Homo sapiens: one gene and its partners. The protein of the gene in region 1 purifies or fractionates together with the protein of each later gene. This does not show direct contact. Each region holds a gene or a part of one and is shown on either strand. Other genes may lie near its edges. The genes, in order: RPRD1A, CRCP, PLIN3, POLR3E, POLR3H, MYO6 and ANKMY2.

What was found.
Region 2: the proteins of RPRD1A (region 1) and CRCP purify together in Homo sapiens (affinity purification with mass spectrometry, with the first as the bait; one large-scale study listed by BioGRID). This does not show direct contact.
Region 3: the proteins of RPRD1A (region 1) and PLIN3 fractionate together in Homo sapiens (co-fractionation; one large-scale study listed by BioGRID). This does not show direct contact.
Region 4: the proteins of RPRD1A (region 1) and POLR3E purify together in Homo sapiens (affinity purification with mass spectrometry, with the first as the bait; one large-scale study listed by BioGRID). This does not show direct contact.
Region 5: the proteins of RPRD1A (region 1) and POLR3H purify together in Homo sapiens (affinity purification with mass spectrometry, with the first as the bait; one large-scale study listed by BioGRID). This does not show direct contact.
Region 6: the proteins of RPRD1A (region 1) and MYO6 fractionate together in Homo sapiens (co-fractionation; one large-scale study listed by BioGRID). This does not show direct contact.
Region 7: the proteins of RPRD1A (region 1) and ANKMY2 fractionate together in Homo sapiens (co-fractionation; one large-scale study listed by BioGRID). This does not show direct contact.

What each region holds. Positions count from the first base shown.
Region 1 is NC_000018.10:35,991,604-35,995,222, forward strand, and holds part of RPRD1A (regulation of nuclear pre-mRNA domain-containing protein 1A), read right to left. Parts: intron 1,698-3,619; coding exon 1,548-1,697; 3' UTR 1-1,547. UniProt on the Homo sapiens protein: Interacts with phosphorylated C-terminal heptapeptide repeat domain (CTD) of the largest RNA polymerase II subunit POLR2A, and participates in dephosphorylation of the CTD by RPAP2.
Region 2 is NC_000007.14:66,145,483-66,149,983, forward strand, and holds part of CRCP (DNA-directed RNA polymerase III subunit RPC9), read left to right. Parts: coding exon 1-18; intron 19-4,501. UniProt on the Homo sapiens protein: DNA-dependent RNA polymerase catalyzes the transcription of DNA into RNA using the four ribonucleoside triphosphates as substrates.
Region 3 is NC_000019.10:4,846,666-4,851,166, forward strand, and holds part of PLIN3 (perilipin-3), read right to left. Parts: intron 1,226-4,501; coding exon 1,026-1,225; intron 1-1,025. UniProt on the Homo sapiens protein: Structural component of lipid droplets, which is required for the formation and maintenance of lipid storage droplets. Required for the transport of mannose 6-phosphate receptors (MPR) from endosomes to the trans-Golgi network.
Region 4 is NC_000016.10:22,303,409-22,307,909, forward strand, and holds part of POLR3E (DNA-directed RNA polymerase III subunit RPC5), read left to right. Parts: intron 1-1,747; coding exon 1,748-1,798; intron 1,799-4,501. UniProt on the Homo sapiens protein: DNA-dependent RNA polymerase catalyzes the transcription of DNA into RNA using the four ribonucleoside triphosphates as substrates.
Region 5 is NC_000022.11:41,530,378-41,534,878, reverse strand, and holds part of POLR3H (DNA-directed RNA polymerase III subunit RPC8), read left to right. Parts: intron 1-1,191; exon of another isoform or gene 1,192-1,905; intron 1,906-2,133; coding exon 2,134-2,220; coding exon of another isoform or gene 2,221-2,275; intron 2,276-2,721; coding exon 2,722-2,785; intron 2,786-3,990; coding exon 3,991-4,192; intron 4,193-4,501.
Region 6 is NC_000006.12:75,885,239-75,888,738, reverse strand, and holds part of MYO6 (unconventional myosin-VI), read right to left. Parts: intron 2,736-3,500; coding exon 2,645-2,735; intron 1,896-2,644; coding exon 1,745-1,895; intron 1-1,744. UniProt on the Homo sapiens protein: Myosins are actin-based motor molecules with ATPase activity. Unconventional myosins serve in intracellular movements. Myosin 6 is a reverse-direction motor protein that moves towards the minus-end of actin filaments.
Region 7 is NC_000007.14:16,603,823-16,608,323, reverse strand, and holds part of ANKMY2 (ankyrin repeat and MYND domain-containing protein 2), read left to right. Parts: intron 1-3,412; exon of another isoform or gene 3,413-3,474; coding exon 3,475-3,603; intron 3,604-4,501. UniProt on the Homo sapiens protein: May be involved in the trafficking of signaling proteins to the cilia.

The DNA of each region.
Region 1 (3,619 bases):
CCCAAGTCCCAAAAGTTGACTAAAAACTTTGGAATAAGCCATGTATTATTAGTAGTGCATGGATGAGCACTACTTATATGTGTCTCTGTTTTGGAGAGAGGTCAAATTGTTAAAAGAACTATTTGCAGAACTACTTGGCTATTAAAAATAAATGTCTGCCTTCTTCATATGCAATTCATTGTAACTATAATTTCTAATACTGAGAAAGAAACAATGAAGCCATTCAGACTAGAGAGACATAATTGGCTTGTGGGATTTTCAAGATGTTTTATTGACTATCTAATTTGAATCTACTTACAAAGAGAAGAAAAATGTCTAGTATGTAAAGCAATGAATGAAAATAAATGTTTATCCTAAGTCATTATTGAGTACAAATCCACAGCTTAACAATGTGTTTTTAACAGCAGGAGAGCATGCAACTGCTCTAACACACAGGGTCAGAAATAAAAGGTAAAAGTACATTTGTTTTGTAACTGTAAATATACAAATATAAAATTTACCATATCTACCCTGTAGTGTGGCACTGCTTAACTGCCAAATATACAGTCATTCAAAAACCTTAAGGAAACATTGAAAATGTCTCAGGCTACTTTACTGAACATTAACGAATATTGTGTTCTTGAGCTATTAGAGCTAAAAGTATTATTTTTAAAGTTATATGAGCAAGGGAATAATAAAAGTATCATTTCACGTGTCTTTTAATCCCATAGACGGCTTTTTGTTAAAGGGATTAATTATGTTAAAAGGAAACTGATTTGACAAATAGAAACCAGTTCCAGAACCAAAGTTGTCCTCTTGGTAGAATGTCAAAATGTATATTATTTCCAAAGTATTTTCATTATTAATCTACTCAAATAATTACAAACAGTTTAATCAAGGGAGTCACTATTTAACACTTTTAAAATCTACACTGGCAGTTGGAATGGAACTTTTACAATGCTATTAAGGAACAGTTCTCTAGACTTTCATCTGCCCCTCAAAGTGACATCCCTGTTTTATGTTAAATTACCGACCTCTAAGGAATCAAAGGCATGTAGAGACACAGAATTGATATTTTGTTTGGGGAGAAGGGTAAAGATTATGTTGGAACATTTAGTCCCTTCTACAATCAAGTCCTAACTATACCATAATAAAGTCTCAATCAACTCCTAATTAGTTCTTCCCCTTCAGGAATTACATAGTATACAGTGATTAAATGCTGAAGAAAATAAAGAAAAACAATTGAAAATACCTGAAGAAATACAAACAAGAGATTTCTCACAAGGCCTTGGATCAAAAAAAAAATTTACAAAAAGATCTTTTGAAAATAATCACTATTTGTGAGCTTATTAATACACACAAATCATCACTTTGTTCAAATTAAGTCATGTTAATTTACCAATAAAATAGTAAACAAACCAACATTTTAAACAATTTTATAAATTACTCGTTGTTCCTTTTGTTAGTGTTTCTTTCTCAACAATATACAAAAATAACACTACAGGACTATCCACCTAACCTGTCTCCATCTCTTGCAAAGTCCTGGGACCTGGAAAGAGGCTGGTCCATCAATCTTCACTGTAGATGTCTCCCGCAAAGGGCAGGTGCATGTGGCTGCCAGTGACATTGGGCAATCGAGATAAGTCTGGCAGGCTCTGGATCCGGGACCTGAGTTCTTTGCGCACCAGGGAAACTCTGGCTAGCTTGCGCTTGTACTCCTGTAACATCAAACCACTTTCATTAGCATTCAGGGATTGAAAAAACTTCCTAGCTAATAATGACCTACATAAACCCAGGTACTATATATACTCAGTTAATGCCATATTTAAAAAGGTTATTCCAGTGTGAGTTTTCACATCAAAAGATGAGCTTTGGAAATATATAACTAGTAAACTATTATTATTAAGAAAAACCACAATCTTTAGCTGTTGCTTCACACCAGTAGAAAGAAGACTAACATTAATGTGCTTAACCTCGACATATAAGATGTTCAGGTATTCTTGAGTTTGGGCAAGAAAAATTACATATTTATTTTCATAAACCTTAACTAAAATTTGGCAAGAACATCTATGAAAACTCAGTAGGAATGGCCAGAGTCTGTGGTGTCTGAAGCAGGACTGCTCCCTTCCTGTGCCCTCCCATCTAAGCAAGGAGGGTCCACTCCAGACTGCTGCAGCCAAGAATACAGGATCACTCTCCCTGCAACTCCCAGTGGGAGGGTTTTATTCCCAGAAAGAGCGCCTCTCATCCTACCCCAACTACCTGGTGCTGAAGCTAAGTCCTGAGATAGAGCAGGGAAGAGCCTGGGGACTCCCTCCTGTCCAGCCCCCACTCCTGGAAAAGAAGTTCCTTCTTATGCGTGGAGGACTGAGAATACTTGGGCCCTGATAAGCCTCACCCCCAACTCATGAGGAAGGTGGCTCCACAGCAGAAGAGGCAAGCCAAGACAACCTCAGGCTGCTGCACCCCTCCCTTTCTCCAAAAGCTCAGCACCCACAACAGGGTATCACTCAGAGAAAAGCTTCCCACTATACCCATCTCAGTTCCAGGGTCCTGACTCAAAGATTTGGTCTAAGGAAGTAGCAGGCAGTAAAATAGATATGTCCATGGCAATTCACTATTACCACAGTGCATGGCACAAGGCAGGGAGATTCACGCTCTTTCCAAATGTGGTCACAGGTAAGTCCTGAGAGGACCATCCTAGAGAGTGCATAGATGAGGAAACATCTAAGGAAGAAACCCAGCTAGGAGTTTACTGCAACTCTCCAGGAAAGAAAGGACTAGGGCCTGAACCGAACCAAACCAACAGTAGTAAGGATAGAGCAATGTCCTTTAAAAACTACATTATATGTAAATAATACCTTAATGTCAAAGACTAAATGTTTAGAAAGAAAAATCAGCAGGAATTGGTTGTGGTTCTGCTGTGAGGAATAATGAGGGTTCAGGCTTCATAAGCAGGTGGATATCGGAGCTGTTATCTGAGATAGCAGAGAGGGGCACAAACTCCTTTGGAGAAGGATACAGAGTTCATTTTTAAGCATGATAACTGTGAGTTATCCATGGGATTTCTAGTAGGCACTTGGAAATGTGATTACAGTATTCTGAGCTACAAATAAAGATTTAGGCTTTATAACTGACAAATTCTAGCTAAAACCAAGAGAAGAGTATGAGCCACTTAGGTTTATATAAATAATCTACAACGTTTCTCAATCATTTTGCCCCTCCCTTCTCTACTCTTCTGCACATCTACCATGAGCCAAGATTTCATCAAACTTTATTTTTTGTGGTTTTAGTAAAAATATACATATAATGAATCTATCTGATTTTCTATCTTTTCCATCATACCACACTACCCCCCATGATTCTAATGTATCCACCCAAAAGATGGCATGACCCTCGTCCCTCTCCTGGTTAAGAATCACAGTACACACAGGAAGGAAGAGAAGTGAGCTAATAGCAAAATGCAGAAATGTCACCAATGTTGAAAAGGATCATGAAAAGAGCAGTAAAATAGTAGATACCAGGATAGAGAAGTGAGCATGTATTTGGAAAATTTCCCACTTTTTTCTTATGAAAATACTGGCTTGCTGAACAATACCACTCACATCCATTATCTGAATAACTCAGTAATTATCCTTAA
Region 2 (4,501 bases), on another chromosome or scaffold:
GCTGTGGAGATCCAGCTGGTGAGTGAAGGGCGCCTGTGCTGGGGAGGCTGCTGTGGGTCTGAGATGTAGAATGGCTGTGGTGGACAAGCCAGGAACTGCGTTTTTTTTAAGAGGCTGCCCAACCACTCCATTTCTTAAGGAAAAAGAGACCTTGCCAGTTTGATCCTAGTTAGTGTGGACTTAGGGACCACAAAACACTGGAGGAGATTTCATTCCTCCTCTAGGGTTTTGGCTGATGACTTGGCGGCTCTCCGACTCCCCTGATGTCCAGGCCATTCTGGCCATTGCTTCCCTGTAGGCGTTGTTGCCAACCAGATGTTGCATAAAAAACATGAAATTCAGCATGTCTCTGGTGAACATTCTCTGTCCCCACGCCCACCCTTCACCCTGCTCTTGCTTCCTCTCTTTCTGGGTGAGGGGAGCATGTGTGCGCTGTCCCATCAGCTCCCTTCCTTGCTCATCTCCTGGCCTGGCCTCCCACGCCGGAAACCTGCAAGCCATTCTCTTCCTTTCATCTCACAGTCAGGGAGTCCCCAAGTTCTGTTGCTTCTGTCTTCGTTCTTGCTTCTCTCCCCCGTGTACTGCGTTGATTTCTGCCATTATTTCTTCACGCGGCTCTTGCGGTTATCCTCTCCCCATTCTCCCTGGCTCCCCAAGTCCATCTCCCACATCACCGTCAGAGATCACATCTAAAACCATGAATGTGATCCCATTTCCCTGCATAAACCGTTTATTTAGTACAGCCTCATCACTTGTGAAGTCCGCTTTGTACTGAGAGCGTAGGCTTTGGAATAGGAGGAGGCAGCCAGAGTAGAGGGGCCTACGATGGGATAAGGGGCCCGGGAAATGATCCAGGGAGATACCCGGGCCACCACTGGGCACGCTGTGGCCGCTGCCTTCTTATTACAGGGCAGAGAGCATCGGTACCTGACAAGTGTTAAGCAGGCCGTCTAATTGCCAGTTTAAAAAAAAAAAAGAAGAAGAAACTTTAGAGAATTAACAAAATGAGAATAAAGCAGTTTCCAAAGTCAGTTTTAGAAATACTTAGCTCTTTGTCAAATTTCCTTTAGAAAAGTATGGAAGAAAATGGTCAAAAATACGATTTTTAGAGTTGCTAATGGAAAAACTTTTTAAAAGGCCACAGGGTATTTAATTTTTTACTAAATTGTTCATTGTCTTCCTAGGGTTGTTTTTGCCCTTCAGAATGTACCCAAAATTAAATTAGAACAGTTCCTTTCATGAAGGGTGCCTTTCTCTGGGAACCCGCCTGTAGGCTAAATAGAAACCCCTTTCTCATGTGTCCTGATTATTTTCATGCTTTACACTGTATTGGAGTTTCAACCTAGAGCTTAGAGGAGAGAAAAAACAAACAGAACAGCAAGAAACGAATCCCTGTCCCTCTGGGTTAAAGATCATATGTCATGTCTCCTCCAGCTTTAATCAGCAACATATGTTACTCATGGCTTAATGACAGGCAGAGAGAAGAGATGAGGATTAGTGTGACCTCAGCCAGAGCCTGTGGAAAGTGGTATCATTACTTGGGGGAAGATTTGCTGCTATTGAGAGTGCCTGGGGTGGGCCGGGCGCGGTGGCTCATGCCTGTAATGCCAGCACTTTGAGAGGCCAAGGTGGGCAGATCACCTGAGGTCAGGAGTTCAAGACCAGCCTGGCTAAAGTGGTAAAACCCCATCTCTACTAAAAGTACAGAAATTAGCTGGGCATGATGGTGCACACCTGTAATCCCAGCTACTTGGGAGGCTGAGGCAGAATCACTTGAACCCGGGAGGCCAAGGTTGCAGTGAGCCAGGATTGCACCACTGCACTCCAGCCTGGGTGACAGAGTGAGACTCCATCTTGGGAAAAAAAAAAAAAAAGAGTGCATGGGGTGTGCCAGACACGGTCTCAGTCCTTGGTCCTGGTGCCTGTGATTGTCTGTCACTTCGAATGCCCGCCCCATAGTCTTGGAAGGGGGCAAGTGTCCTCTCCATTTTAGCCCAGAGGGCTGGTGAGTGGCTGATTGGGACCTTCTGATTCAGAAGCTTTACTTTGCTCCTCCAAGCCAGGTACTTGTGCTTGATGAGAAGAAAGATGTGTGTGGCATCCCCTGAGATGGTTTCCTTCTCGTTTCTACAAAGTAGGTAGGCCTTGGTAGAAACTGCTGTTTCTCAGTAGTTGGACCATTTTATAGCCAGATTCTTCCCACTCTGGAATTTGGCTACAAAAGGTAGCAAATTGTTTACCAAGGTTTGTAGCAGTATCGCTTCTCACCAGAGTGAATAAGAAATGAAAGCTGTGGCCGAACATGGTGGCTTGCGCCTGTGATCCCAGCACTTTGGGAGGCCAAGGTGGGAGGATTGCTTGAGGCCAGGAATTCAAAACCAGCCTGGGCAACATAGTAAGACCCCATCTCTACAAAAAATGAAAAAAATTAGCCAGGTATGGTGGCGCACACCTGTGGTCCCAGCTACTCAGGAGACTAAGGTGAGAGGATTGTTTGAGCCCAGAAGTTCAAGGCTGCAGTGAGCTATGATAGTGCCACTGTACTCCAGCCTGTGTGACTGAGCAAGAACCTGTCTTTTAAAAAAAAAAAAGCAAATGGCTGGGCACGGTGGCTCACGCCTGTAATCCCAGTACTTTAAGAGACCGAGGTGGGTGGATCACCTGAGGTCAGGAGTTTGTGACCAGCTTGGCCAACATGGCGAAACCTCATCCCTACTAAAAATACAGAAATTAGCTGGGCATGGTGGCGGGCACCTGTAATCCCAGCTACTTGGGAGGCTGAGGCAGGAGAATCGCTTGAACCTGGGAGGCGGAAGTTGTAGTGAGCGAAGTGTAGTGAGCGTGACTGCACTCCAGCCTGGGCGACAAGAGCGAAACTCCTTCTCTAGAAAACAAAAGGAAATAAAAGGTTTCACTTACAGTGGCAAGCACAAAGGACTTGAGTGAGAAGTTCCCTATATTAACACTAGAGCCATTTTTTCTCCCTGGGTTCAGAAAACAGTCCCAGCATCCAACATTTATTAGCATTCACTTGGAAGCCAGGTGTCTTTTGGAGGCTGAAGCCTCACCTCTTCAGTTACGCCTGGGCTGTGATTTGCTGTGGCCCTCTGATGACTGCCTGCTGACTCAGAGGCTCGGTGAGGAAATGAGGTGGCCACCCAGCTTAGGACTTGTTGTGCCCGGTTGTGTATTGATTTGGAATGATTTGTGAGCCCTCCGGCCTGAGGTCAGTGAATCCTGTGACCTCACAGGCCACTGCCCTGAACAGCACTACCATCTAGGCCTGTTAGTGATTTCGTGATTATGAAGTCTTGACTCATATAGAGCGTTATTGCTTGTAAAACACTGTTACATGTGTTCTCCTTTTGTCCTCGCTGTAGGCGTTACTTTCATTTTACATTAGAGAAAGTTGAAATTTAGAAAGCCAGATTCAGTGAACTGTTCTGGATCAAATATTTAATAGTATACATTGTTGCTATCAGATCTTTGAATCATTTTGAGGAAAGTAGGACTTTAGGTTTGGCGACTTCAAGTTGCCATTTTTGGAGGTCGGCAACCCGGTTTGATGCTCCTGGGATTGAGATAATAAATGTATCATTTATGTTAACCCAGCTGTTGATACTTTGGATTTTTAAGTTTTATTTCCCCTTATGTTCTCAACTACCTGAAATGGTTGGTATCTGAGAACCTTGAGATGGTGCTTTGAACTTTACTTCTTTATTTGGACTGTTTCTCCTGTGTTGGAAAGAAAAGGTGAAAGGCCGGACACAGTGATTCATGTCTATAACCCCAGCACTTTGAGAGGGTGATGTGAGAGGATCACTTGAGCCCAGGAGTTCAAGACCAGCCTGGGCAACCCCATCTCTACAAAAAATAATAAAAAATAATTAGCTGGACATGGTGGCACATAGCTATAGTCCCAGCTACTTGGAAGGCTGAGGCAGGAGGATTGCTTGAGCCCAGGAGTTTGAGACTGCAGTAAGTGATGATTGCGCCCAAAGAATAAAGCAGGGAAAGGAGGGAAATAGCCAAGATTTGATTATTTAACCTGGAGAAAAGATGATCTCCGTTTGAGAAAATAATGTGCAGAAAAGAATTTTGCTAAGTTCACTAACGGCCGGAGCTTTTATCAACATCCAATCCTCCTTAATTACAGTCAAGACCTTTTTTTTCAACCTAAGGTTCCCAGTCACAGGAAGAAACCCTAAGCTGCATTAAACTAAATGAAATATAAACAAAAAAGAAACTTTCAGAAATAAAAAACTTACTAGCACGTCTTGGATCACTAGGATAAATGACAATGACTACATTATCCCTCACCCCCACCTTTTTTTTCCCCAAAGAGAGTGGGTCTTACTCTGTCACCCAGGCTGGAGTGCAGTGGCACGATCTTGGCTTACTACAACCTCTGCCTCCTGGGTTCACACCATTCTCCTGCCTCAGCCTCCCGTGTAGCTGGGACTACAGGCGCACGCTGCCACGCCCAGCTAATTTTTTGTAT
Region 3 (4,501 bases), on another chromosome or scaffold:
TCCCGCCTGGGCAACAGAGCGAGACTCCGTTCAAAGAAAAAAAAGAGATTAGGACACAGACATACACAGAGGGAAGGGACGACCACGTGAATACACAGAGAGAAGATGGCTGTCTACGAGTCAAGGAGAGAGGCCCCAGAAGGACACTCTGATCTTGGACTTCCAGCCTCCAGAAATGTGAGAAAATAAATATCTGTTGTTTACATTTCCCAGACAGTACGAATTTTTTTTTTTTTTTTTTGAGATGGAGTCTCACTCTTGTCACCCAGGCTGGAGAGCAGTAGCATGATCTCGGCTCACTGCAATCTCTGCCGCCCGGGTTCAAGCGATTCTCCTGCCTCAGCCTCCTGAGTAGCTGGGATTACAGGTGCCTGCCATTGTACCTGGCTAATTTTTGTATTTTTAGTAGAGATGGGGTTTCACCATGTTGGCCAGGCTGGTCTTGAACTCCTGACCTCGTGATCCACCCGCCTCAGCCTCCCAAAGTGCTGGGATTACAGGCATGAGCCACCGCACCTGGCCACGATTTTTTTTTTTTTTTTGAGATGGGGTCTTGCTCTGTTGACTAGGCTGCAGTGCAGTGGCACAATCATAGCTCACTGCAGCCTCCAACTCCTGGGCTCAAGCAATCGTCCCACCTCAGCCTCCCAAGTAGCTGAGATTACAGGCACGCACCACCACAGCCAGCTAATTGTTTTAAATTATTTTTTGTAGAGATGGGGTCTTGCTATATTGCCCAGGTGGGTCTCAAACCCCTGGACTCATGCGATCCTCCTGCCTTGGGCTCCCAAAGCACTTGAGGGACTCACACAAAGAGGTGTGAGCCACTGTGCCCGGCCCCAGACAGTGTGGTTTGTGGCAGCATCCTGAGCAAATGAGTGTACAACCAGATACAGTGCCAGGAGCAAGCGGGAATGGCCCTGCCAGCCTGCAGAGGGGTGAGCAATAAGCCACTGAGCTCTGGGTGGGTGTCTGCTGCGGGGTGAAGGCTGCTGGCTCAGGGCCCCGACCCCCTGGAACCTCACCAGGCTTAGGACCTGCGACAGCTGCAGCAGAGCCTCCTGTGCCCTCTGCTTGGTGGCTCGAAGCTTGCCCAGCGAGTGCTCATAGGCGTGCTGCCGCAGCCTCTCCGACAGGGAGCCCAGACGTACGAAGTAGCTCTGTTCCTGCCGCTGCTGCTGCACGGACGCGACGTCAAAGCCATCCAGGGATGTGGCGATGCGGGCTGCAAGGAAAAGGAGAAGGGTCTCTGTGAAGACCAGAACACACAGCTGGGCTCGTCCCATGCAGACAGTCCCAAGAATCACACTGTCCAGTTTATTTATTTATTTATTTAGAGATGGAGTCTCGCTCTGTCGCCCAGGTTGGAGTGCAGTGGTGTCATCTCGGCTCACTGCAACCTCTGCCTCCCGGGTTCAAGTGATTATCCTGCCTCAGCCTCCCGAGTAACTGAGATTACAGGCGCCCGCCACCATGCCCAGCTAATTTTTGTATTTTTAGTAGAGACGGGGTTTCACCATGTTGGCCAGGCTGGTCTCGAACTCCTGATCTCCAGTGATTCATCCGAACTGGCCTCCAAAAGTGCTGTGATTATAGGCGTGAGCCACCACACCTGGCCATGCTGTCCAGTTTATAACCCAGTTCTACTTCTTATAAACCTCGAAGGCCTGGGAGCAAAGGATTCTGCCTTGGTTTTCCCTATCTGCAAAACGGGGATAAGGAAAATTAAACCTCACAGGAATCAGAGACCTTAGACTAGCAGGAGGGTCTCAAGCTATGGCCTGCAGGCCAGACCTGCCTTGGACAACCTGTGAATATAGGCCTGAATGTTCATTATGCAGTCCTGCAGAGAATAACAGCATTCCAGCCAGCAATACATCACATATACTACAGAGGTCCCATAAGATTATAATACCGTAGGCCGGGTGCAGTGGCTCATGCCAGTAATGCCAGCCCTTTGGGAGGCCAAGGCGGGCAGATCACTTGAGGTCAGGAGTTCAAGACTAGCCTGGCCAACATGGCACTACCCCATCTCTACTAAAAATACAAAAATTAGCCAGGCGTGATGGCACTAGCCTGTAATCTCAGCTACTTAGGAGGCTGAGGCAGGAGAATCGCTTGAACCCGGGAGGTGGAGGCTGCAGTGAGCCAAGATCACACCACTGCACTCCAGCCTGGGTGAGAGTGAGACTCCGTCTCAAAAAAAAAAGAGAATAATGACATTTCAGCCAACAATGGACTGCATATACTACAGTGGTCCCATAAGATTATAATACCATATATACCGTATTTTTCCTGTACTTTTTCTTCTTTTTTTTAGACAGGGTCTCGGTCTGTTGCCCAGGCTGGAGTACAGTGGCACGACCTCAGCTTACTGCAGGCTCAACCTCCCAGCTTCAAGCTATCCTTCAACCTTGGCCTCCCGAGTAGCTGGGACTACATAAAGCTGGGACTACGGCAAGACACCTGGCTAATTTTTGTACTTTTTGTAGGAATGGGGTCTCACTATGTTGCCCAGGCTGGTCTTGAAATCCTGGACTCAAGCAATCTGCTCGCCTCAGACTCCCAAAGTGCTAGGTTTACAGGTGTGAGCCATTGCACCTGGCTTCCTGTACCTTTTCTATGTTTAGATCTGTTTGTTTTGTCGGTTTTTATATTTTGAAGTACAGTCTCGCTCTGTTGCCCAGGCTGGAGTGCAGCGGTGCAATCATAGCTCACTGTAGCCTTGAACTCCCAGGCTCAAGTGATCCTCCTGTCTCAGCTCCCAAATAGCAACTGGGACTACAGGCGTGCACTAGCACACCCAGCTAATTTTTAAATTTTTTGTAGAGATGGGGTCTATGTTGTCCAGGCTGGTCTGGAACTACTGGGCTTAACTAATCCTCCCACCAAAGTGCTGGGATGACAGGTGTGAGCCACCACGCCTGGCCTCATCCCATGTTCGTAGGTTCATATGTGTATATGCATGTATTTATTTACTTATTTATTTATTTATTTATTTTTTTGAGACAGAGTCTCACTCTGTTGCCCAGGCTGGAGTGCAATGGCATGATCTCGGCTCACTGCAACCTCCGCCTCCCGGGTTCAAGTGATTCTCCTGCCTTAGCCTCCTGAGTAGCTGGGATTACAGGAATGTGCCACCATGCTTGGCTAATTTTTGTATTTTTAGTAGAGATGGGGTTTCACCATGTTGGCCAGGCTGGTCTCAAACTCCTGACCATGTGATCCAGCTGCCTCAGCCTCCGAAAGTGCTGGGATTACAGGCATGAGTCACCACACCTGGCCTTTATTTTTTTTGAGATGGAGTTTCACTCTTGTTGCCTGGGCTGGAGTGCAATGGCGCAGTCTTGGCTCACCACAAGCTCTGCCTCCCAGATTCAAGCCATTCTCTTGCCTCAGCCTCCCGAGTTAGCTGGGATTACAGGGATGCGCCACCATGCCTGGCTAATTTTGTATTTTTAGTAGAGATAGGGTTTCTTTATGTTGGTCAGGCTTGTCTCGAACTCCCGACCTCAACCTCCACCCGCCTCAGCCTCCCAAAGTACTGGGATTACAGCCATGAGCCACTGCGCCCAGCTGCATGTATTTATTTAATCCTGCTCCTACTGTACCCATGCTTTTTTTTTTTTGAGATGGAGTCTCACTCTGTCGCCCAGGCTGGAGTGCAGCGGCCCAATCTTGGCTCACTGCAACCTCTGCCTCCCAAGTAGCTGGGATTACAGACGCCTGCCACCGCACCTGGCTAATGTTTATTTTATTATTATTATTTTTTTGAGACGGCGTCTAGCTCTATTGCCCAGGCTGGAGTGGAGTGGCATGATCTCGGCTCACTGCAAGCTCCGCCTCCCAGGTTCATGCCATTCTCCTGCCTCAGTCTCCCGAGTAGCTGGGACTACAGGCACCCGCCACCACGCCCGGCTAATTTTTTTTTTTTTTTTTTTTTTTTTTTTAGTAGAGATGGGGTTTCACTGTGTTAGCCAGGATGGTCTCGATCTCCTGAACCTGTGATCCGCCCGGCCTTGGCCTCCCAAAGTGCTGGGATTACAGGCGTGACCCACCGTGCCCGGCCTAATTTTTGTATTTTTAGTAGAGACCGGGTTTCACCATGTTGGCCAGGCTTGTCTCAAACTCTTGACTTCAGGTGATCTGCCCACCTCGGCCCACCAAAGTGCTGGGATTACAGGCTGAGCCACCGCGCCCTGCCTATATCCTAAGCTACTTATTTGCAAAAATCCCAATCCCCGCACTTTGGGGGGCTAAAGCAGTAGGATCACTCCAGCCAAGGAGTTCTGGATCAGCTGGGATGACAGAGGGAGACCCCGTCTTTACCAAAAATTAAATAAAGAAAAATTAGTTGGGCGTGATGGTGTGTGCTTGTAGTCCCAGCTACTCGGAGGCTGAGATGGGAGGCTCGCCTCAACCCAGGAGTTGGAGGCTGCATTGAGCTATGATCGCACCACTGCACTTCAGCCTGGGCAAGAGAGTGAGACTCTATCTCTAA
Region 4 (4,501 bases), on another chromosome or scaffold:
CCGGCGACTATTTGGTGAATGAATGAATGAATAAATGGGCTCAGCAGTCCCTCCTTCCCAGGCTTACGCAGATGTAGTCATTCAGCAGCTGTTCACTGGACCACTGTGTGCTGGGGGCTGTGACACATCAGTGAGCAGGGCAGGGTCCCCTTCCCTGGGAAGCTAATGGGCTGTGGGCAAGACTGATGAGGCAGGAGTCTCCGGGTACAGGCAGTGGGAGGCAGATTTCCCTTTTTTTTTTTTTTTTTTGGAGACAGAGTCTTGCTCTGTTGCCCAGGCTGGAGTTCAGTGGTGCCATCTCGGCTCACTGCAACCTTCACCTCCCAGGTTCAAGCGATTCTCCTGCCTCAGCCTCCTGAGTAGCTGGGATCACAGGTGCCCATCACCACGCCCGACTAATTTTTTTTTTTTTTTTTTTTTTGAGGCGGAGTCTCACTCTGTCTCCCAGGCTGGAGTGCAGTAGTGTTATCTTGGCTCACCGCAGTCTCTGCCTCTGGGTTCAAACGATTCTTGTGCCTCAGCCTCCTGAGTAGCTGGGATTACGGGCGCCCGCCACTACACCTGGCTAATTTTTGTATTTTTAGTAGAGATGGGATTTCACCATGATAGCCAGGCTGGTCTCGATCTCCTGACCTCAAGTGATCACCCACCTTGGGCCTCCCAAAGTGCAGAGATTACAGGCATGAGCCACCATGGCCGGCACAGGTTTCCCTTCTTAGAGAAAGCTGTTGATAGTCAAACTCACCTTTCAGAATCCTTTTAACCCAGGACTTAGACCTTTGGAAGGCAAAAGGCAAAAAGTAACTGCATCTGCCTTCAGCCTCCTTATATGCGGAGCCTGACCTCCAGTGGGAAGGGCAGGGGCAAGGAGAAGGTCCTCGGAGATGAATAGAGGTGGTTTTTCCTTGCTTGGGGGATGTTGCTAAGTTATTAGATGTGAGTTATTTAGATGCATTTAAGCTGCATCTACACTGCAGTAGCAGGAGTTACAACAGGGGGGTTGGTGATGGGATAGAAGAGTCCAAGGGACTCCGAGGACAGAGGCAGTGCCCTCTGCAGCCAGGGGGCCTGGAATGCTTCCTGCCCAAGTTGTGCCTCAGCCAAGTCCTTGGAGGAGCGAGCAGTCAAGGCTCAGGGGAGGCATGTGTGAAGGGCTCTGTAGGTATAGGGAAAAGCATGTGCAAAGGCCCAGGGGTAGGAGAGCATGTGGTTTATAGGAGGAGTTAGGAAGCAGGAAGGTAAACTGCTGCGTGGCGGGGTGGGGGTGGTTAGTGTTGGGAAGAAAGGAAGTGGAGCCATCAGTCACAAAGGGCCTTGCAGACCCCTTAAGAAGGGGTGACAGGCTGGTCCAGGAGGGGCAGGTGGAGGGCCCAGCCAGGAGGCACAGGCCTAGGTGAGCCCTCGCCTGCCTGCCTCTCAGAAGAGCATTTGCCCAGGCTGTAGGACGTTTCCCGATCAGTGCAGCCCCAGGGAAGATGTGTGCTTACTGGGGGATTGTGAACTTGGGTGGGGGTACCAGGTGAACTCTTGCCCTGGTTCCCCTGGGAGCTTTCAGGAGGGATTCCTGAATATACCCAGTGTGCAGCCTTGGATCCGCTTGCTTTTAGCATGAGCTGAGCTATTTCCTCCTTCCCCAAACTGCTTCCCTGAGCCACTGCCCTTAACTGAAGCTGGAAGCGCTGGCATAGCCCGGGGAGGTCAGCACTGTGTCCAGTCTCCCGGTTAAGTCGTCTTCCCTTCTTCCCAGATCGATGTGTACTTGGCCAAGAGTCTGGCGGAAAAGCTGTATCTATTTCAGGTAATTATGGGACTTGAAGGTAAAGAGGGGAGAAGCAGGTGTGGGTGGGTGGTGTGGACTCAGGAACACGGGCAGGAAACGATGGGAAACCTCAGCTAGGGTTCTCGGTGTGGAGAGTGTCATGGGGTCTCTTTGCTTTCGTGGGTGGGTTAATATTGGTCTCATTTCAAAGATGGGAAAACTGAAGGAACACAGGAGAGGCAGAAGTGTGCAGCAGTTAAAGCTGGGGCTCTGGGGTCAGACCGGATTGAGATCCAACTCCATCACACCATAGCTGCGAGACCGTGGGCAAGTTTCTTAATCCTTCTGTGCCTCACTTTCCTCACTTGCAAAGTGGTGATGGTGATAATGCCTGCCTCATAGGTCCCCAGGAGGACAGGCTGAGTCCACAGTGAAGTGTTTAGGATGCCGCCTGGCAGAGAGTTGGTGCCAGTGATGATGGCCGCTGTTGTCATGGAGGCTCCAAGGGGCAGCTCCATGGCAGCGTCTGTGAGCCCTCAGTCCTGCCAGCTGCGAGGGCCCCGGGTTGCTACCTCTGCCCCCTCCCCTTGCTGCTGGGCCAGCAGCTTGTCATTGTGGCCAACATGTATTGAGCATTGACCGTATGCAGACTGTTGAAAGCATTTACCTCAGTTACCTCTTTAACCCCACAATAACCCTATGGTGGTGATTATTACATTTTATAACCGATATATTGAGATAGAATTTACACACCACACAGTTTCCCCATTTCAGTGTGTAATGCAATGGATTTTAGTCTACTCATGGGGCTGTGCAACCAGCGCCACAGTCTGTTTTGGGACAGTTTTGTCCCCCTTTAAAGGAACCCCTTGCCTATTAGCGATCAGTCTGTGCCCCCCATTCCCACCTCCAACCCCAGGCAACCATTCCCCTTATTTTCTGTTTATGGTTTTGCCTATTCCGGACTTTTCACATAGCTGGAATCATGCAGTATGTGGCCTGCTGTGATTGGCTGCTCTCACTTTGCATGATGTTTTCAGGGCTCATCCACATGGTAGCTATAGCCTGCATCAATATTTGAGCTTTTCTTTTTTTTGTTTGTTTGTTTTGAGACACAGTCTTGCTCTGTTGCCCAGGCTGGAGTGCAGTGGCTTGATTGCGGCTCACCACAACCTCTGCCTCCCAGGCTCAAGTGATTCTGCCTCAGCATCCTGAGTAGTTGGGACTACAGGCACGCGCCACAAGCCCGGCTAATTTTTGTATTTTTAGTAGAGATGGGGTTTCACTATGTTGGCCAGCCTGGTCTCGAACTCCTGACCTTGTGATCTGCCTGCCTCGGCCTCCCATAGTGCTGGGATTACAGGTGTGAGCCACCGCTCCCAGCCAATATTTGATCTTTTACTGATGAATAATGTTCCATTGTATGGGAGACCACAGTTTGTTTATCCATTCATCAGCTGATGGGTATTTGGGTTATTTCTACTTTTTGGCTATTATAAATAATGCCACTGTGGACATTCACATAGAAGTTTTTATGATGAACGTGAATTCTCATTTCTTCTAGGTATATGCCTGGTAGCAGAATTGCTGGGTCTGCGTTTAGCTTTTTGAGGCACTGCTGGGCTGCTCTGCCCCATGTTGCCTTCCCACAGTTAGAGTCAGTGTTCATATCCCATGATGCACATGAGAACGTGAGGCACAGGGAGGCCTTCACGGGCACGGAGGCCTGGGGCATGCCACAGCAGCAATGTTGTAAGCCTGTGCTGGGAGGGCCTGGCCTCCACTCCCTGGGGTTCACCCTTATGGGCCGTGGGAATGGGGCCTGTCCTGTGTGCCTGCTCACCCTGTTTCCTTGACTGGCTGCAAAGTGATGGTGGAGGTGCCAGTGACCCCCGTGTGTCCAGAGTTCCAAACCCTGAGCCACCATCGGCTCTGTTTGCCTCCTCCGTGCTCACAGCGGCCTTGGGAGGTGAGGATGCTTAGCCTCAGGGAGGCGAGGTGCCTGCCTGAGTCCACAGTTAGCAAGGGGAAGGATGAGGACTGGAAGCCAGGCCTGTGATTTCAGAACCTGCGCCCTTCAGCCTTCCCACCCCCAGTCAGGTGATCTCAGAACTGCCCCCAGCCCCAGCCCAGGAAGCAGGGAGGAGTCACGGCTTTGCTGTGTGAGTGAGCTTTTAGGAAATGACCGTCTCCTTGCGCTAGAATGTAGCTGATCTGAAAGGGCCTATTTTCCGCACTGCCATACCTCCACCAGGCTCATTCTACAGGCTGTCATGAGACCAGGCAGAGCTTTTGAGGAGGGGTCCAGACTTTGACTCCTTCACCTGAGAGAGAGAGGGACAGTGTACTGTGAGGACAGATGTGGACAGGAGCCCCTGCGTGTTGAGCGCATTGCTGTGTGAGCCATTCACATAAAGATAAGAGCGGGCCATGGCTGCCTGGCTCCCTTTTCCAGCATCTTGTGAGGAAGCTCACACAACCAGATAAGGAGAGCGAATGGATTCACGAATTCCCACCTGCCCGTCGTCTGGCCTCAGCAGTGAGCAGCACGTGCCGGTGTTGCTTTCACTCTTTGCTTCCTCATGGACTCCTTTTGGTCGTCCTTCTCTCCCCGGATGGCCTGTCCACTGGTAGTTAGGCCCTGGACCCCCATCCTCACCTCCCATGGCCGTGCTCTGTGGGTTCCTGGAGCAGCAGCGTGCCGGTTTGGGTTCCTGTGTGTAGACACGTCCCTCGGAAGTC
Region 5 (4,501 bases), on another chromosome or scaffold:
CTTGTTGCCCAGGCTGGAGTGCAATGGCGCAGTCTCAGCTCACTGTAACCTCTGCCTCCTGGTTTCAAGCAATTCTCATGCCTCAGCCTCCCAAGTAGCTGGGATTATAGGCACCCAATACCACGCCTGGCTAATTTTTGTATTTTTTTAGTAGAGACGGGGTTTCACTATGTCGGCCAGGATGGTCTTGAACTGCTGACCTCAGGTGATCCGCCCGCCTCGACCTCCCAAAGTGCTGGGATTACAGACTTGAGCCACCGTGCGCGGGGCCATTCCACAGCGTTTTTATCACCCTACAAAGAAACCCCGCCCAGTAGCAGTCACTGCTAATCCTGTCCTTCACCCAGCCTCTGGCAGCCACTTAACTGCTTTCTGTCTCTATGGATGTGGTTCTGGACACTGTACATGAATGGAGTCGCACACTGTGTGGCTTTTGTGTCTGGCTGCTTTCACTTGGCCCCATGTGAAGGTTCAGCCCGAGGTTGAGCCACACTGTAGTGCATGTCAGAATTCCTTCCTTTGTAAGGCTGCATAATATTCCATTGTGTGTCTCCAGCATGTTTTGTTTACTCATCCATCCATGGGGGACTCCGGGTGCCCAGCATTTGCTTTTGGATGTGGTTGTTCCAGCCTGGGGCTCCCTGGGCGCAGGATCATGTGCTGTCCCACCCCCGTGAGCCCAGTGCCCAGACTGGGCCTGGCACAAACCTGGTGCAGGCTCTGTGAAGTTTTTTTTTTTTTTGAGACGGAGTCTTGCTCTGTTGCCCAGGCTGGAGCGCAGTGGCATGATCTTGGCGTACTGCAACCTCCACCTCCTGGTTCAAGTGATTCTCCTGCCTCAGCCTCCTGAGTGGCTGGGATCATAGGCACCTGGTACCACACCCGGCTAATTTTTGTATTTTGGTAGAGACGGTGTTTTATCATGTTGGCCAGGCTGGTCTCAAACTCCTGACCTCAGGTGATCTGCCCACCTCGGCCTCCCAAAGTGCCGAGATTACAGACTTGAGCCACCCCGCCCGGCCTCTGTGAGGATTTATTAAACCAAACTGAATGTTGGGCCATGTGGGGGACAGGGTTTTTCCATCTGTGCGTAAGTGGCCCTTGGCCGCCCTCATCTGCTCTCTGGGAGGTCAGCACAAGGCCCAGTCATCTTCATGGTGGCTGTGATGGCTCACGTTTGTGTCTTCCCAGGGTGAGAGGTCCATCGGCTGCCTCTCCTCATGCCCTGCTGATGCCAGGGTCCCTGCCGTCCTGGGGGGCATGTTGGCCGACTAAATGGTTGACGGCATCGTGGAAGCCTGTGTTTGGGATTAAACCTGTCTGAGGAAGGCAAGATTCGACCCGGTGGCCCTGTCTGGTGGGTACAGAAAGACCAGGTGTCTCCCCATGGCTATGTGGCTGTGAGTGGGTCACCCTGGCTCTGAGCCACTGCCTTATCCTCACGGTGGGAACTCTGTTGGTAACCAGCAGGGGGCAGCCGCGTGCTGATTCTCAGGTCAGCGTTGGACTCCTACTTTGGGGCTTCGAGCAAGGGCCTGAGTGACAAGGTGACATACAGCTAATGCCAGGGCCTGGGGTCAGAGTGTGCGATGTGGGCACAGACCCCACCTGGTGTTTTCCTTGCAGTCAGGTGAGTGGGGACCACCTGCAGCATGGCCTGAGAACCCACAGAGGCATTTTTGCTGGGCTGCTGGCCTGCGCCTCACAACACCAGGGCATTTTTAGCCTCCTCTCCAGGTCAGAGCTGTGCCTGGGGCCGACTTTGCTGCTCAGCAGGAGGTGGGAGTTTCCAAACCCTGCGTTCTTTACCAGTTGCTTCTGCCCTTTTTAGGAGCTGAAGGAGAGCCTGGAGGGAGGTTGAAATTGACTTTGGAGCCACTGATGGCTCAGAATCTGGGCTCAGGTGTGAGTAACCTGGCAGTTTTGGGAGTGCCCAGTTACAGGACAGCTGCTGCTGCCCCCCTGTGGGGGCCATGCTGTGAACTTGCAGGAGACAAAGGGAGGGTCTAGGCTTGCAGGGGGATGTGGCATGGAGCAGCCACACAGGCCCCCAGGTGTGCTGGCACCTGAGGGTGACATGGGAGCGCACTGGGGCCCCGGTCAGCATCACTGATGGGCTGTCTTCATTTCCAGTCCATTTTCGCTGCGTGGTGTTTCATCCATTCCTAGATGAGATTCTCATTGGGAAGATCAAAGGCTGCAGCCCAGAAGGAGTGCACGGTAACAGTGGCCCTGACGCCTCAGACAAGACTTGGGAACACTGTGGGGGCAGGAGGTCTGTGTCCACCCACATGGTCAGGGGAGGGCTCAGGTGTCGAGGCCGAACCTTCCCCGTGGTGTCAGAGAAGCTTGCCCACCCTCCCTTTTATGTGTTGTGTGAGGACCTCCATCAGCAGTGCGGTTTCACTGTGAGGCCGTCACTCAGGACTTCAGGGTGGGCACTGAAGCTGGCGGAAGTGACTGGGAGTCTTTAGCGCCCACTGGCCCCTGTTGTGTGCAGAGGTTTTGGGGACTAGGTGCTCCGGGCTTTGCCCAGGGCTGCTCCGCTATGTGGGTGGTGTACGCAGAGGCATTAGGTGGGGAAGGGGCCTAGGTTTCCACAGCGACATCCGCCTCGTGGGCAGCCCCAGGCAGGGCTTGCCTGTCAAGCATAAGACCCCGCAGTGTTTGGCGTCCACTGGGACCCCCATCTCAGGCCGTCACCTGCTTCCTTCCTTCCAGTCTCTCTAGGCTTCTTCGATGACATTCTCATCCCCCCAGAGTCACTGCAGCAGCCAGCCAAGTTGTATCCTCCAAGGGTTAAAGTGGTTTGTCACAGGGAGCTCAGGCCTCTCCAAAGGAAGGTCCCCACTCCTTAGGGTGGCCTTTGGGGCCTGTAACCTGATGTCACTGGCCTCTGTGCCTGCCCCTCGCCTGTGCTTTTGCTCCAGAGGCACCAGCCTGTCTGTGCCTCCCATGCAGGGAGTCATGTGATGCCCACATGCCTGTCTTTGTCGGGGCCATCAGGCTTGGCTGTCTGGGTTGTACACTGCACACCATTAGAGCTGTGGTGTCCTGGGGGACACCATTCACTTCCGGTTCACTTCACTTAGGTTGTCCCTGCAGGAATCATCTTAAAGATCACTTGCCCTGGAGGCATGCACTGGTCCCTGGGACGTGAGGCCTTGCCTGTGTGCCGGGTCGTGGGCTAAGATGTGTTCCTCCTGGGCCTCCGTTGTCCCTGTCCCACCCCTCACCTTGCTGTACTGGGGTTGTCTGTTTCTGTGGGGCTATCCACAAATCTGAGGCTCCTCACTGGGAAGGACTCTGACATGTCACAGCTGTACCCACGGTGCACAGCACGGGACCTGGCACAGAGGCAGGACCCAACAGTGGGACTGCCACCAGAGAACCCATGGCTCCCCTGTGTGGGCTCTGCCAGGGACGATGGAGAGCCAAGGGGGACTGCCCTGGCTGGGTGGCAGCACGGCTCTGGGTCTGCATGTGACTCCAGGATGTGTTAGAAAACCTGGCGCAGCCCGGCTGGTTCTCTCACCACCTGTCATCCAAGTGGGCAGGTGACCTCCCATCCCACTATGTCCTCTTGAAAACGGCAAGTCCTTGGGTGCCCATCAGCCTGTCACAAGGCTTTGATGAAAAGGGTGTGTGGGGCTCCGTGGCAGGAGGCCCAGGTTGCTCTTGTCTTGAGAGGTGGGACTCGGACCCTGTCTCGTCCCCTCCTGCTCTGGTGCTCTGAGATCCATGTGCGTCTGGCCGTGGTGCCTGGCTGGGGACCCCATGTTCCCCTTCCTGGGTCCTGGCCTCCAAGAGCGCTTGTTCCTCTCTGTTTGGCCCAGGCCTTGTGCATGGGGCTGGGACCTGCTTTTCCTGTGACTTCCCAGCCACAGTGATCTCACCCTGAGATTGGTTTTTCCTGCGGGGTCGGGGAGTGGGTGCTGAGGGAAGCCCCTCCCACTATCTGGTTGCTGCCTTGACCCTGGACCCCCTCAGCGACGAAGCGGAGCAGGTGTGGGTGTGGGAGTACGAGACGGAGGAAGGAGCACACGACCTCTACATGGACACCGGCGAGGAGATCCGCTTCCGGGTGGTGGACGAGAGCTTTGTTGACACGTCCCCCACAGGGCCCAGCTCAGCAGATGCCACCACTTCCAGTGAGGAGCTGCCAAAGAAGGAGGCTCCGTACACGCTTGTGGTGAGTGGCTCTGATGGTGCTGAAGCCCCCATGAGGCGGGAGAGCCGGAGTGCAGGGCTGGAAGCTGTGTCCTGGGGCTTCTGCTCTGGGATCTCCCCCAGCAGGTCAGGGATCCTGTTTGGGGGGTCTTGGCTGGTCACTTCTCCCTGGAGAGCCTGAGTTTCTGTAGGCCAGGGCTGTGAGGCAGTAAAGGTACATGGCTGCTGGTGGGGTGGGCGAGTCAGCTTGCAAAGGGGACAGAGCTCACGGTGGACAAGACCACTGATAAAGCGGCTTTGAGGCCAAGTGCAGTGGCTCACATCTATAATC
Region 6 (3,500 bases), on another chromosome or scaffold:
GCATAAAAGAGAATGTAAGGTAAAGTAAAAACAAGTAAAATTATACTGTAAAAATAACAGTAACTAACTGAATTTGTTAATGTGGAGGTATTAAGAGGTTTTTGGTGGTTTCTCCAATTTTTTTTTTTTTTTAGCCAGGGGTCTCACTGTCACCCAGGCTGGAGTGCAGTGGTGCAATCTCTGTTCACTGCAACCTCCATCTCCTAGGCTCAAGCAATCCTCTAACCTCAGCTTCCTTGGGACCTCAGGCTCATACCACCATGCCCAAATAATTTTTTGTATTTTTGGTGGAGACAGGTTTTGGCCATGTTGATCAGGTTGGTCTCTAACTCCTGAGCTCAGGTGATCCCTGCGCCTGGGCCTCCCAAAGTGCTGGGATTACAGGTGTGAGCCATCACATCTGGCCTCCAAATTTTTTATAGTATTATATTACTTTTATCATTTATTTATTTATTTTTAGACGTAGTCTCACTCTGTCGCTGAGGCAGGAGTGCAGTGGCACAATCTTGGCTCACTGCAACCTCTGCCTCCTGGGTTCAAGCAATTCTCCTGCCTCAAGTAGCTGGAACTACAGGCGCGTGCGATCACACCTGGCTAACTTTGGTATTTTCAGTAGAGACGGCGATTCACTATGTTGGCTGGGCTGGTCTCAACCTCCTGACCTCAAATAATCCGCCCACCTCGGCCTCCCAAAGTGCTGGGATTACAGGCAGGAGCCACCATGCCCCACCACTTTTATTTTTATTTATTTATTTTTTTTGAGACGGAGTCTTGCTCTGTCACCCAGGCTGGAGTGCAGTGGCGCGATCTCGGCTCACTGCAAGCTCCGCCCCCCCGGTTCACTCCATTCTCCTGCCTCAGCCTCCCAAGTAGCTGGGGCTACAGGTGCCCCCCATCACGCCTGGCTAATTTTTTTTTTTTGTATTTTTAGTAGAGACAAGGTTTCACCATGTTAGCCAGGATGGTCTCAATCTCCTGACCTTGTGATCCGCCTGCCTCGGCCTCCCAAAGTGCTGGGATTACAGGCGTGACCCACCGTGCCCGGCCATTTTCTTTTTGCTCCAACTTTAGTTTTCTTTTTTCATTTTTTTTTTTTTTTGAGATGGAGTCTCACTCTGTCACCAGGCTGGAGTGCAGTGGCACAATCTTGGCTCACTGCAATCTCCGCCTCCCAGGTTCAAGCGATTCTCCTGCCTCAGCCTCCCAAGCAGCTGGAATTACAGGTGCACGCCACCACACCCAGCTAGTTTTGTATTTTTAGTAGAGACAGGGTTTCACCATGTTGGCCATGATGGTCTCGATCTCCTGACCTCATGATCCGTCCGCCTCAGCATCCCAAAGTGCTGGGATTACAGGCATGAGCCACCATGTATGGCCTCCAACTTTTATTTTAATTTCAGGGATGCACGTGCAGGATGTGCAGGTTTGTTACACAGGTAAACGTGTGCCATGGTGGGTTTGATGCACAGATCATCCCATCACCTAGGTATTAAGTTGCGAGGGATATCTTTCTTAGCAACAGAAGAAATGGCATAAAAATTGTCTTCTTTAACTTTTTGCTATGAAATTTTTCAAACATAAAGAGTAGAGGTAATAATGATGAGCATGTACTTGCCATCATTGAGTCTCAACACATTTTGTAATTTTGAAAAACTAAGGACGTTTTCTATACAATTTCAATACCAATAACAAAATATATTAAATTACATAAAAAGTCAAAGTCATTCGGGTTGAAATTACATACCTTAATTTTGGCCATCAAAGTATCAATAGAAATTTCCAGATTCTTGATCTGTTTATTCATCTCGGGTTTTCCATCTTTCAACACACTGACTACCTCATTAAATTTATCAAGTCGTTTTTTCAGTGTGCCCACCTTAACCAGACCATCAATGCTGTAAAAATAATACTTCATTAGAGCTTAATTTCATCCTTTAGTACTTTTGGCAGATTTTTCATTTATAAAATGCTAAACAGGGTATTTCACTTCTGTTTTCAATATTATCTACTATTCTCTTTTTCAGATCTCTTGTTGAAGGCTAAAAAAAATCAAATATGAGTGTGAATGACACTGATGCCTGTCAATGGGATTAAAGCCTTCTACAACTTTGAGAATTCAAATCACAGAGGAAATTAATCTAGTCTCTTTGAAAAGGTGTGATGGATCAATAGAGATATTCAGACTTCCAATTTTTAAAAGTGTAAATTAAAAATGAAAGATTCAAATAAGAAATACACTAATTTATAATGGGACAATGTAATTCCTACAGATAATCTTGAAAATTATGTAAACATATTAGTGAGATGTTTTTTAAAAAATGTCACCTTGACATTATCAAGAAACTCAAATAACTAAAATAATCAGAATAAAAGAGCTTCTCTCAACTACTTACTTCTTGTTTTATAGTCTTTACACATTTTTGTATGCCACTTCAAATCCTTTTATAGAATGAGGCAAGTAATAAGGTAATAAATGAATTAACTAACTTCAAATAAATATTACAAATAAAAGACTAATACATCATTTTACAAAGAACATGAGAAAACCTGAGTATCCAAACTGCTTTTTATTATGACTTTATTGTCATTTTGTATTACAGTAACTAGGTTTTGTAGAGTTCTTTTTAGGAACTATTCATCTTACCGAGGTTTGTGTCTCCTCTTGCAAAGCCACATTCGAATAGTTTTTTGCATTTTAATGCAGGCTTCAGCTCGATATTTTATTTTGTTTTTCACTATGTGTAAGAGTAAAATAAAATGATAGAAAATTATTCAGTTTAAATCTAACATATATTAAAAAAACTCATTTTCACAAAGTAATGCTCAAGAAACATGAAATCTTGACGACCATATTATTATATATCAGACATCAAAAACAAAGTTTTAACACCTTTTTTGTTTGTTTTTGTTTTGACAGTCTCAACCCAGGCTGGAGTGCAATGGCATGATCTTGGCTCATTGCAACCTCCACCTCCCAGGTTCAAGAGATTCTCGGCCGGGCGCGGTGGCTCACGCCTGTAATCCCAGCACTTCGGGAGGCCAAGGCGGGCGGATCGTAGGGTCGGGAGATTGAGACCATCCTGGCTAACACGGTGAAACCCCGTCTCTACTAAAAATACAAAAAATTAGCCAGGCATGGTGGCGGGCGCCTGTAATCCCAGCTATGGGAGGCTGAGGCAGGAGAATGGCGTGAACCCGGGAGGCGGAGCTTGCGGTGAGCTGAGATCGTGCCACTGCACTCCGGCCTGGGTGACACAGCAAGACTCCATCTCAAAAAAAAAAAAAAGAGATTCTCATGCCTCAGCCTCCTGAGTAGGTGAGGTGGGACTACAGGCACACACCATGCTGGGCTAATTTGTGTATTTTTATTCGAGCCAGGGTTTTGCCATGTCGGCCAGGCTGGTCTTGAATTCCTGACCTCAAGTGATCCTCCCACCTCAGCCTCCCAAAGTGCTAGGATTACAGGCGTGAGCCACCACGCCCAGCCAGTTTTAACATTT
Region 7 (4,501 bases), on another chromosome or scaffold:
TTGGCTATTTAGTGTTTATGCTTTTGGAAGAATAAAGTTAGCAAATTATGATTTGTCAATTACAAATGTGTCTTGGCAGCACATATCAAAGCCCAACCAACCATGAATTAAATAGATGAGGGTTTATGTATTCACATATACATAGATGCCCAAAGGTAGGCAGACTAGGTCTGGCATAGTGACTTAAAAATAGTTTGGGGACCCAAACACTTTCTCATCTTTCCCTTCCAATATTCCTTAGCTGTGTAGGTTCTCATATGCATACTTATGATCTCATGGTTACGAGGCATTTGATGTTCCTCCTCCAGCTCACATTCCTATCCCAGGCAGGCAGGAAGAGCAAAGGGGTCTATATCTGGAAAACATAAGCTCTCCCAGAAGCCCTCTGCCTGTGTCACATGACTTTCCTTAGCTACACAGGAGTCCAGGAAAATTTTTTTTTTTGGCTTTTCTAAACACTCCTCCTCTGAACAAAATTACACTTCTGTTACTGAGGAAGCTGGGAGAATTGATATCAGAGAAGCAACTAGCAGTACCTGTTATGTGGGATTTCCAGCACTCACAAATGGTTGCTGACCTTTTACCTTCCTGGGAAAAAACAGAAAAACTAAAACAGCAACCCAGAGTTCTTTAAAAAAAAAAAAAAAAAAAAAAAGCAGGTCAATATTGTGGTCAACAAGTTATCCTAGCTCCATATAATAGAATAATGTAATTAGAGTTTATAGAGTATAATTATTATTATTTTTATTTATTTATTGAGGGGGGTCTTGTTTTGTTACCCAGGCTGGAGTGCAGTGGCGCAATCTCAGCTCATTACAACCTCAGTCTTCCGGGTTCAAGCGATTCTCATGTCTCAGCCTCCCGAGTAGCTGGGACTACAGGCACACACCACCATGCCCGACTAATGTTTCTGCATTTTTAGTAAAGACGGGTTTTCACCATGTTGGCCAGGCTGATCTTGAACTCCTGACCTCAAGTGATCTGCCCGCCTTGGCCTCCCAAAGTGCTGAGATTACAGGCGTGAGCCACCGTACCCGGCCTAGAGTATAATGATTAATGTTTATCCCAGTGATCTGAGTCATCAAGAAAAGGTTTATAATAAAGTTAAGATAGTATTTAATGCATTTTAGAAAGACTTTTCTTTAAACATTTTTGTTCTTTGAGAGTTTTATGTTCTTCTGTCTGGAAGACTTCATCCCAAATGCCTGTGATTGTGCGTATCACAGCCATTGTTTACTGCCTAATTGGTTTTCATATTCTGCAAGTTCTAACCCTCTGAAGTGATGCCCAACCTTTTCCCCGCATACGATGGTTCTCAGGGCTGGCTGCTGTGAGCTTCACTGTGTTGTTTTCTGACAGTGCTAATGCCTGGGCCCTCCTGCTCAGCTTTTGGTTCCCTCTGCTGCTGTGGAACTCTGGCTTCTGCCTGTCTCAAGGCTCAGCACAAAAGAGAATTCGTAGCACTTTCATGTGAAAGCAGACCCAGTCATTATTATTTGTATTCAAGAAGAACATGGTAGTTTCAAAATGAGTGCTACTTTTAAAATACTTCTTGAATCTTTGAATATTTTCTTTGACTATCTTGAGTATACAGAACAGTGTAGGACATTGTTACCAGGTGATATTTTTAAACCTCTATTATGTACAGTTGGTAAGATAATATAAAAACAAATATTCTTAGGAAGAAAAAGCAAATACTCAAATGAAAATGAAAATTATAAAGAGTGTCAAAATGCTGGTTTGGAACAAATGAACAAATTTGAAAAACTCAGAACAAAGAACTATTAGGAGTAGGTAAGAAAAATAGAAACGCTGTGATTATTTTTTGCTAAATAGGTTTTAGTAGCATCGTCTCAGACAGATAAATGCTTACCCTTATAATTTTTTTTTTTTTAAATACAAGGTCTTGCACTGTCACCAAGGCTGGAGTGTAGTGACACGATCTCGGCTTACTGCAACCTCTGCCTCCCGGACTCAGGTGATCCTTCTGCCTCAGCCTCCCAAGTAGCTGGGACTACAGGCGTGCCACCATGCCTGGCTAATTTTTGTATTTTCAGTAGAGTCGGGGCTTCACCAAGTTGGTCAGGCTGCTCTCAAACTCCTAACCTCAAATGATCTGCCTGCCTTGGCCTCGCACAGTACTGGGATTACAGGCGCTAGCCACCACACCCAGCCCCTTATAATTTTCTTTGTAAAAAAAGTTTATAGGCCAGGCGCGGTGGCTCATGCCTGTAGTCCCAGCACTTTGGGAAGCCAAGGCGGGCGAACCACGAGGTCAGGAGTTTGAGACCAGCCTGGCCAACATGGTGAAATCCTGTCTCTACTAAAATTACAAAATATTGGCCAGGTGTGGTGGCTCACACCTGTAATCCCAGCACTTTGGGAGGCCAAGGCAGGCAGATCACAAGGTCAGGAGATCAAGACCATCCTGGCTGACACGGTGAAACCCCATCTCTACTAAAAATACAAAAAAATTAGCCGGGCGTGGTGGCGGGTGCCTGTAGTCCCAGCTAGTTGGGAGGCTGAGGCAGGAGAATGGCATGAAGCCAGGAAGCAAAGCTTGCAGTGAGCAGAGATCACACCACTGCACTCTAGCCTGGGCGACAGAGCGAGGCTCCGTCTCAAAAAAAAAAAAAAAAAAAAAAAAAAGTACAAAAAATTAGCTGGGCGTAGTGGCGGGCGCCTGCAATCCCAGCTACTGAGGAGGCTGAGGCAGGAGAATTGCTTGAACCTGGGAGGCGGAGGTTGCAGTGAGCCAAGATCGAGCCACTGCACCTCCAGCCGGGTGACAGAGACTCCATCTCAAAAAAATAAAAATAGATAAAAATTATAAATATTTTTTAACCTATTTTAATTTTCCATTGCCCACTAGTAGTAAGTTTCACACATTTGGTTTTTCTTAATACTTTGATTCAATTGCTGCATGTGTGTTTCTTAACAAATTTGGAACATACCAATTATAATGGTGATAATTTATTTGAATTACAAGCCAACATCAAGTAAATGAGTTTAAATATATTGTCTTTAAAATACTTAGATTGTACTAAACTTTTCAGAATTAAGACAGTTAAACATTTTTGATGTGCCCTATAATTGTCTCATGGAATATGAATATTTTCTGGATGTCAGTTCTCAGAAAAAAATTCTGCTCTGGAGTTATTGTCCTAAATCTGAAACGCTATGGGCTTACTGAATTATCCTTATTGGAAAAATACTTTTTTTCTAGATTAAGGGTGTTTTTTTCTCTTTAATTATCTGGACATATGACTGACTTTTCATATGTTTTGTACAGAAAATGGTATATTCTAAAAGATTTTTGTCATTTTGTCTTAAAGCCTGTGTAATCTATAGCCTTAATGATTTCTTCCTTTTTGTGTCACATTGTAGGACGGCAGTGTCCGTGGGCTGATACCTCTGTAGTGTTTCCATGGTGATTTCAGAATTTGTTTTTTCTCCTCTTCATGCCCACTCTAGGGTTCTGATCCCACTGCATTCTCCGTCCTTACCCAAGCCATCACTGGCCAGGTGGGTTTTGTGGATGTGGAATTTTGCACTACCTGTGGAGAAAAGGGAGCAAGTAAAAGATGTTCAGTTTGCAAAATGGTAAGAATGGAGTTCTTTTTATTTCATTGACCTCTGGTTTAGATGCAGCCAAGCTGATGATTGAGTTTTAATATTCTGTAAGAGTGGACATTAGTTTTCTAATAAATTCTAGTAACGAAAATATTCTATTTAATACTTAAAAAGTAGTTTTGGAAAAGAATTAATAGGATCAATATAGTTCTTTACTGTGTCTGTCTTCTGCTAAACTGCCAGTCTTCCTTTGCCTCTTTGCTGATCACCTCATGGAAAGAAAGGATATGAATGAATGAATATGAGAAAATAAGAGAAAGGTTTTCCGTGGGGCACGAGACCAAGGCTGGTGCAGATGTGAAACCTAGAATAGGACAGTTCATAAATATACATTCTTTACTCTTCTGATGTTGACTTTAATGACAGTGTCTTCATCAACATATCCTTGTAAAACTATAGTTTCTGACTGTTACCAGTCTTTAATCCCTATGGACTGTACTGCCCCCTTCTGCCAGAATTATCTTTGTAAAAGGCATATCTGATTGTGTTGTTCTCATATCCAGATACTGGACACATGCATGTGTCCGTACATTCACTTAATCCCATAGGTAGCATCAACTGCCTGTTGACTTTAAGGTTGAAATTCTCCAGCATGTTGTATGAAACCCATTATAATCTGCTGTGACCTACTTCTTCAGCTTCATCTTGTTTAATGACTTACTTCTCTGAACCTGTTTCCTGAATTAAATGAAATTCCAGAATTAAATCAAACTATTTATATTGGTTAATTATTACTGCTTATAAAAACACACTCAAACTCAGTGCTTAAAATGATAATCATTTAGTCTTTCTCTCACAGTTGTGGTTGGCTGTTCTCAGCTGGGGCAGTTGTGCTCCATGTGACTCTCATCCTTCTTGTACTAGCAGG